Homo sapiens: one gene and its partner. The protein of the gene in region 2 purifies or fractionates together with the protein of the main gene of each other region. This does not show direct contact. Each region holds a gene or a part of one and is shown on either strand. Other genes may lie near its edges.

Region 1 (4,249 bases), on a different chromosome or scaffold from region 2:
TGGCCTCCCAAAGCGCTGGGATTACAGGCGTGAGCCACCGCGCCCGGCCCTCACATGCTAGTTTTTCAACAACTGGGTGAATAAGCAACTGCTCAGAGCAATGAGGTTCTGTGTGCGGGGAGCAGCGAGGTGGGAGAGCTGCCCTGAGGAGGAGAGGAAGGCTGACTGCTCCCATAGGACGACTGGTGAGGACCCAGCACACTGGGGAGTGGCGTGGGAGGGGTGGAGGGGCCCACCAACTTGCATCTGGTCCCTGGGCTGCTCACCCTTCCCTGAGGCGCAGACAAGCCTGGCTAAAGCACCCTGTCCCCGGCCCAGACCTCAGTGCAGGTGGCAGGGTGGGGGCGGGGTCTCACCTGCACGCAGCTCCTGCAGCCTGTGCAGACACTGGCCCACCATGGCCTGCAGCCCCTCCAGCGTGAGCAGGCAGCGGTACTCCTGCATCCAGTCCATGGGGGCTGCAGAAGAGTCAGGGAGAGCAGGTGGGGCCCGTGGCAGTCTGGAAACCCTCCCTGCACTGGCCCTCCACACTCCTCCTGATACAGACCCAGGACCCACTGACCTGCCGAGAGCTCCTCCCTCATGCGCAGTCTCAGCAGCGAGCAGGCCTTCCGCAGGCGCCCCGCCTCCGCCTCCACCTCCACAGCACTGAGCCTGGGCTGGGGCCCGCCTGACTGGATATGGGTCAGGAAAACTTCCCTGCAGCCAAAGCCCCTCTGCTCCCACCAAGAACGGGGCCTGGGGAGTGGCCCTGGCCATCCCACGCCAGCCCCTCCTGGGGCTGCTCTGCAAACCTGCCAGGTTCAGAGCTAGAGGCCCCCAGGGCTCCCACAAGCCCAGCAAGGATACAGCTGTCTGCATGTTCTGGAGGAACTGGGTTTTGGCAGCGGCGGCATCCGTGGAATCACTGGTCTGTGTGGAACTGAGCTGGGCCCACAGGCTGGGGTGCACACGTGGGGTGCACAGAGGAACCACAGAGGGACACGGTTATTCCAGCCAGTAAGCTGGGCCTTGGGAGGTAGGCAAGGGCCAGGGTGGGGACCCCAGGCTGGGCGTCTGGCTCTGCTGAATGCCAGGAGGGGCCTCCAGAGGCCGCAGGGAACCAAGAGGACACTGACTAGGACAAGGGGACAAAGCTGACCGGCTGGCAGATTTTTAACATCGACAGTGATCCCACTCAGCAAAGAGGACAAAGAGACCCACTGGAAAGTATCTCGAACCTGTCCCCGAGCTGGTGATGCCTCCCGGTTCTCCCCTACCCCCGTCCAGCCAAAGACCTCAGCCTCACCTCGAGTTCTGGGAAGCTGCTTTCCTGAATGCCGCAGGCAGCCGCAGCAGGTGCCTGTCGGAGAAGCCCGTGTTCAGAGGAGCATCGCCTTGCTCTGGGGTCTACAAGTCCCACTTCCTGCTCAGAGCCCAATCAGGGATGAGGCTTCTTGCCCCTCTCCCACACCCGACCCCACCAAGGATGAGCCCCCTTGGATAGGGCTTCCAGAGTGGCCATAGGAGAAGCATCGTCCAGTGCTGCCCCATTAGAGAGAAGAGGGGGCCCTGTGAGCGGGGCCCTGTGAGCAGATCCCACGCCCTCCAGAGCCCATCTGGAGCCTCTGGCCTGGGCAAATAAGGGGACAGCCACAGAGAAGAGAGGAGGACAGGCTCCAGTACTTCCCTGACCTGATGGTGCCAACCTGGACACCACCACACAGCTGCTTCATTCTGCCAGCTTCTGAGCATGAGCCTCAGGGGTATGCCACAGGGCTCGATGCCCTGCCTTCCCTGTCACCCCAAATCCCAGGCTCCTTGCTAGCCAGGGTCTGAGGAGGCAGAGACAGAAGTCCCTCCAGTGAGGGTCCGGGAAACCTACCCCTTCTCCTTGAGTGTGAAGGCTTCTGGGGCCTGAGGAGCAGCGGATGGGGCCATTTGCTGGTCCCTGAGGCCCGCCCCAGGCCTGGGGGTTCGGGCTCCCATCCCAACACGGGTCCCATCCCCCACTGACAGCAGCCGGCGCTCAGGGTGGCCCTTGGCAGGCACCGTGGTCTGGCGGAGGCCCTTGGTGGGTCTCGTGTCTGAAGCATGGCCACCAGCTTGGCCTGGGGAATGCGGTGGGGCGGAGGCTGTCGTGCCAGAAGAGGTGACAATGGACCTAGATTTCAGGCTGGGGGCCTTGTCTCTCTCTCCGGCCTTAGTGATGCCTCTTCGAACTCGTACAGCCTTCTCCAGTGCCTGGGTCAGAAACTCCAACTCTTTGAGGTCTTGTGGACTGGGTGTGCATGCTGTGAAAGCCAAGAATTATGCAGGGATCTCTCCCCACTGTCCCCCAGGAGGGTTCCTCACAACTGCACGCCAGCAGACAGGCCAGAGCAGCACCTGGAGAAGGCGGGTGGTGGAGGTTTACCTGGAAGGGGGTCCTCTCCATTAGTTTCTGGCCCTGGAGGTGGCTTCAAAGCCCGGGTCCCAGTTGGTTCCCTGCAAAGACACGGGCAGCCGTCGCACGGCCAGGAGGCAGGGCCCAGCCCAAACAGACCCGAGGGGGCCGCCGGGCCCCGCGGCAGGCCCCCAGCTCAGAGCCTGCAGGGTAAGGAGGGTGGCACTGACAACCCACAGCTCCGAAGTGGGCGGCTGCGCCCGGTCTCCCAGCCCTGGGCGCTCGGGGCGGGACTCTGAGGGCCCGAGGGAGGTCTGGCCAGTGGGTCCGGGGTCCGCGTACCAGGCATGCAGCAGCCGACGGCAAACGCGCAGGCTCTGCTCCAATTGCAATTGTCGCTGTGCGCAGGCGTCCAGGGCGCCCTGCAGCTCGGCCACCAGCCTGGGGGACGCACCGGCGGCTCAGCACCTCGGCCAGCGTCGGGCCTCGGGCCCCGCGCCTGGCTACCGGCCCGCCCGCATCCTCCCACCCCCTCCTGCCGCGCAGGCCTCACCGGCGCGAGCAGCCCGCCGGCAGCATGAAGGCGGCGGCGTCTCCTTGCAATTTGCCGCCTCTGAAGAGCCACGCCCCTTCCGGGAGGGAAGGCCGCCCCTTCCCGGCCGGGCTGCCCAATCCTGAACCGGGGCTCAGGGGCCGCCCCCGAAGCTTTCTCTCCCTCCTTGCGGGCAAGCCTCAAGCCCCGCCCACTCCTGCCTCCCAGGTCTGACGGGGACTCCGGCTCGGAGCTGGGCCCCCGAGGCCGCCAGGGAGGTGACTGCGGGCGACGCCGGGATTTTGGTTTGGGTAACTGGGTAGATGGGGGCGCCATTATCGCGCTTCTCTTGCAGGGGGCCGGTGAAGGTTATACGAGAGGCTCCATCTGTCCTTATTGAAAGTGCTCTTAACGCAGGGACCAGCCGTCTTGCTGACGCCTGGGCCACCGAGCACAGGGACAGGACGGGGTTGCTGGAGGTGAGGATTCCGCGTGTCAGGGGCGGGGATGAAGGAGGAGAAAGTGTTCACTTTTGGACATGTGACGTGATAGCACTGGGCAGAGGGGAGGAAGCTCAGACCTTGGAGCAGTGGGCCAGGCGAGGTGGCCCCTGGTGGGGCAGGGGACGGGTAGGGACAGATCACGGGGCCCACGCAATGGCCAGGGAGGTGGAGGAGCAGTAGGACAGTGTCACAGAGGCAACAGGAGGCTGTCACGGGAGGGAGTGGGTCACAGGCCAAGTGCTGCTGAGGCCTCGGCGGTGTACACAGCACAGCAGGGGGGCGGGGGTACAGGGCCTTCGGTGATGCGGGGGACACCTGAGGGAGGAAGTGAGGAAGGCAGCAGGGCCCCATGTAGTTGGTGTTAACAAGAATAAACAATTAGGGGGCAAGAAATCCCAGGCGGTAGCTGAAAGAAAAACAGAGCCTGGGGTTGCTGTTTAAAGATGGGACAGGTGAGTCCATTCCATAGTCGTTAATGGGAAGGTGCCATCGCAGAGGGGAAGGAGGGCACAAAGGGAGTTGTCAGGGAGGTTGGGACCCAGGCAGCTCTGGCCCAGCGCTCCGGGTGGGCCCCTCCATCAGCGGTGGGGGAGGGTGACGGTGGCCCTGCCTCCCTGGAGATTCTCTGTGAAGGAGGAGGCAGGGAAATGCTCAGTCAGCAGGTGGGTGATGCAGGAACCCACCCACCACAGGCAGGCGGGGCCAGGTCCCCCTGGAGTGGTTTCCTCCTTCAGGTGCAAGCTGGGAGAAAGCAGAGAACTGACTCCATGCAGAGTTGGGATTAAGAGCCCCTGGACAAGGGGCCGAGGCAGTGAAGGACGTCCATCACTCATCTGCCACTATCCTCCT
Region 2 (3,812 bases):
TTACATAAATTCAGAAATTTTTCAGAACTTAAAACTGGAATCCTCTAATCCGATGTTTTTCAAACTGGGTTCTGAACTATTAGTAGGCTATGAAACTAATGAACAGATTAGTACTGTTTTCTTAAATGAAACAGTAGAAAATAACATGTCAGATGTAGTATGAGTAAATAACATTTTCTTAATATATTTTTTCATGTGTGTATGCTGCATTGTGATATATAAAATGTATTTCATACTATTCTGGTTAAAAAAAACTTTAAACACCAATGTTCTAATCCATGCAGATAACTATTAAAAGGCTATGATGCTAAAAATACTAAGTCAAAGTGAGGGAGATTCTTGGGGTGATCTTTAATGAGAAGGACTTTCTAAGCGTCACAAAAAAACCAGAGCCATTACAGAAGAGACAGTTTTGATTTCATTAAAAATAAACAAAACTTCTATATATACTTAAAAAAACCCATAAAAAATAACAAGACAAACTTACAAAAAAACCCTTCAATACATATGATGGGAAGGACTAAGTTTCTCTAAGAAAGAGTTCCCACAAATCAACAACAAAAAATACGAATAATGCCACCACGAAATGGGCAAAGGATAGAAACATTTAACTCATAATAAAAGAAATACAAATTGCAAATAGAAGTAAAGATGCTCAACCTTTCTTCTAATTAAGGAAATACAAATTAAAACTAAATACAATTTTGAATATAATAGATTTATGTCTCATGATACTCAGTATTGGTGCTAGTGTAGGGAAATAGAAACTCATACACATTGTTGCCAGTAAGAAGCACTGGTGCAATATTGTAGGAAGGTATATAGGTAATATCAGCCAAAATTTAAAATGTACATATGCTTTGGTCCTATCTTTTTCTTAGGAATACTGTCTAAAGCTATAGTGGCACAAATACAGAAGTATTTGTCCCAGACTTTCACTGATGATTGGATGTAAAAACTAAACACCATAAACACTTAATACCCATAAATAACAAACTCACTTTAAACTGTATAATTGATTCTATGACAGAGAGCTGATATGGAAAGATGTCTGAGAAAGAGATAAAGTGGAAAAGTTACAGTATAGTATATATTGGATAATCTTGTTTATGTAAAAATATACATACATGCTTTGATAGGCATAGAATATATCTGAAAGAACAGACATAAAAAGACCCTGCAAACCTGATCATCTGTAAGGACAGGGAGTAGGCATTAGATGTGGGGAAAAAAGAACTTTACTTTTAACCTTTAGTATTAATATTTATTTTTGCTATTTTAAGTGAATTGTAAGTATGTTCTTCTGAGATGTTGGGTAGTAAAGGTATTTTTTAAAAAGGTATAACGAACTATAAATCAAATAAAAAGCTAGCTCAAATTTGCAGGTTAATTATACTAGCACAGAAACAAATTTGTTTCTTAACCGATGATTATGAGGATCTTTTAAAGACATGGTTACACAGCAATTTTAACTTTTAATCTTAAAATGCTATGTCAATGAATAATATGTATAAAAATCAACTGTACATACACCTAACTTGCTGAATATAAAATCTTAATCTCAGGTTGGAGGAAAAAAGTGTGACCATTTTGTTCTTTTAAAATTTGCTAAGCGTATTTAAAAATCAGCAAGTTACATTCTGTTTCTATTTTTACAGAACAGGGGAGCAAAATACTTCAGTTCTAAGGTATAGACTTCCCTGGGGGAAGAAAGCAATGCCAATCATTTATTTTTACTTCAAGTTGATTAATTGCCATGTAATAAATGATCTAAAGGAATTGACTAAACTAGTTTCCTTTTTTTTCTCTTTTTGGAGACAAGAAAGGTTTGAAGATGGTTAAAGAAAGGGTATTAATATCCTTTGGCAAGCACACATCATGAGCACGTCAAAAATGCTTCACTCTAGGAAATAGGACTGTACAGGCAAACTCTAAGGAGAAAGTCAGCATTTCTCAAAAGCTCATACATCCTGAAAAGTATCTGAATGTTCTGTAAAAGAAACTAAAGGTACAAGAAAAAAAATTTTCCAGTATAGTTCTGTTGACTCTTAAGAGGGCTTACATTAAAAAAAAAAAAAAAGAAAAGAAAAGAAAATAGTGACATAATTCCACAAAATTTTAAGATAAAAAGGTGTATGTTTATATACTCAAACTACACACCCTCCGAATAGTTCTATCTTTATCAAGCACAGGTCTAAAAACAAGACTTACGTTTGCAAAATGAATTCCCACTTATCCTTTAACACTGTTACAGGCAAATGAGTGAAAAATTTTACCTCCTCCCATGGAATGTATTATAAAGAAACACTGCAAGCAATCACAGTGCTCTGCCGACTTTCTGAATTTCTCTAAAATCTGGTCTTGGTAAAGACTGCCGAAAACTTTGTGACCCACGGCCCTGAAAATTAGAATATGGATTTTAAAAATTCCTTGCATTTATTTTTTTATTTGATTAGTTCTAATCTAAATAAAAGGATTTTAAACAAATTTGAAAAGTATTCTTATTGAGCTAAGTAAAGTCTATTCTTGTTTCATGTAAATAAATCATACAATATCCTGAAGATACTAGATAGAAAACTTAACAAATATTCAGTATCTATAATCCTCAAATATCTGGATAAGTAAGCTCATTAGTAGTGAATATTAAACTATGATTTTCTAAATTCATCTTAACCTTCTCTTAAGGTACAATTCCAACAAAACAAGATTGCAGTTACATAATTTTTTCTTCTCTCCATTTAAGGCAAACTCTGAATTGTAGTGGATTTTACATACTAAAAAGCAAAATGTGGTAAACTACAGAGACACTGAAAATCAAAAATTTAAACAAACCTATTCTGGTTTCATATATGAGAAAAAAAAGGTCACATCATGTTATTAGATGAAATGGTACATGGTAGAAATTGATAATCATGCAGCTCTGCAAGTCTTTTTAAGTTGTCCAAATTTGCAAATATCACTATGATGAATTAAAACAAAAGATTTTCCCATAATATGCATTTCAGGTATAACTCAAAAGTTACATAATAAGTTATACAACAATTAGTAAAAATGCAGTTAGGTGGTCAGATGGGCTCACTTACTAAGTGACTGGTTCTCTGGGAACACAAGATTCAAATTTATGCCTTAGTAAAATTACATATTATTCCGCATTATGAACCTGAGGGACTGGCTGCAAATAGTGAAAATAATGAATATGAGAGATTTGCAAATAACAAGGAGCTAATTTCTAAAAAACAGCAACAGTCTCAATGTGAATTCTTAAGTAATCACTGTTGAAGCTTTTTTCACAGTAAAGAGAAGAGACCATTATATACTCAAGGGCCTAAACAGCCTTAGGCTCAGCTTGAATGCTAGGATACTGGTCTGGCTTGCATCTCTACCAATTGTATTACATCTGACCAATTGGACAACTTGAGAGTGAGTCAAATAACATAGATAACAGTTAATGAAAGTACTTAAAACATTTGTCATTATTTAATGTTCTTCAAGAATTTATGAAACGGAATTTAGCAAATTAATTTTTCATAATTCTTCTTTTTCTTTAAAAAAGTTAGAAAGAACTAGGAGTAAATACAGGTGGCTTCCAAGCCACTATTTATTAAGGTGGTGGGCTGAAAGGCCTAGCATTATGTGGCAAATTACATCCTGTTTCGTATCAGCAGAATCTCACAATGAAGAAAGATTGCTCATTTTTTTCAGAAGATATTCAATTTTTACGCTGTGTATTCTCACCAATTATTTCCTGAGCCAGAAATATCAGTGATGAGCTGTTTCGTATCAAATACATCTCTCAGTGGTCCCTGCAGAAT

What was found.
Region 1: the proteins of TUBE1 (region 2) and TEDC2 purify together in Homo sapiens (affinity purification with mass spectrometry; 2 studies listed by BioGRID and IntAct, with this or other methods). This does not show direct contact.

Annotation. Positions count from the first base shown.
Region 1 is NC_000016.10:2,458,840-2,463,088, reverse strand, and holds the start of TEDC2 (tubulin epsilon and delta complex protein 2), read right to left. Parts: upstream 2,981-4,249; 5' UTR 2,945-2,980; coding exon 2,919-2,944; intron 2,807-2,918; coding exon 2,708-2,806; intron 2,467-2,707; coding exon 2,396-2,466; intron 2,274-2,395; coding exon 1,865-2,273; intron 1,343-1,864; coding exon 1,289-1,342; intron 941-1,288; coding exon 850-940; intron 675-849; coding exon 563-674; intron 459-562; coding exon 357-458; intron 1-356. UniProt on the Homo sapiens protein: Acts as a positive regulator of ciliary hedgehog signaling. Required for centriole stability.
Region 2 is NC_000006.12:112,077,357-112,081,168, forward strand, and holds part of TUBE1 (tubulin epsilon chain), read right to left. Parts: coding exon 3,736-3,812; intron 2,399-3,735; coding exon 2,277-2,398; intron 1-2,276.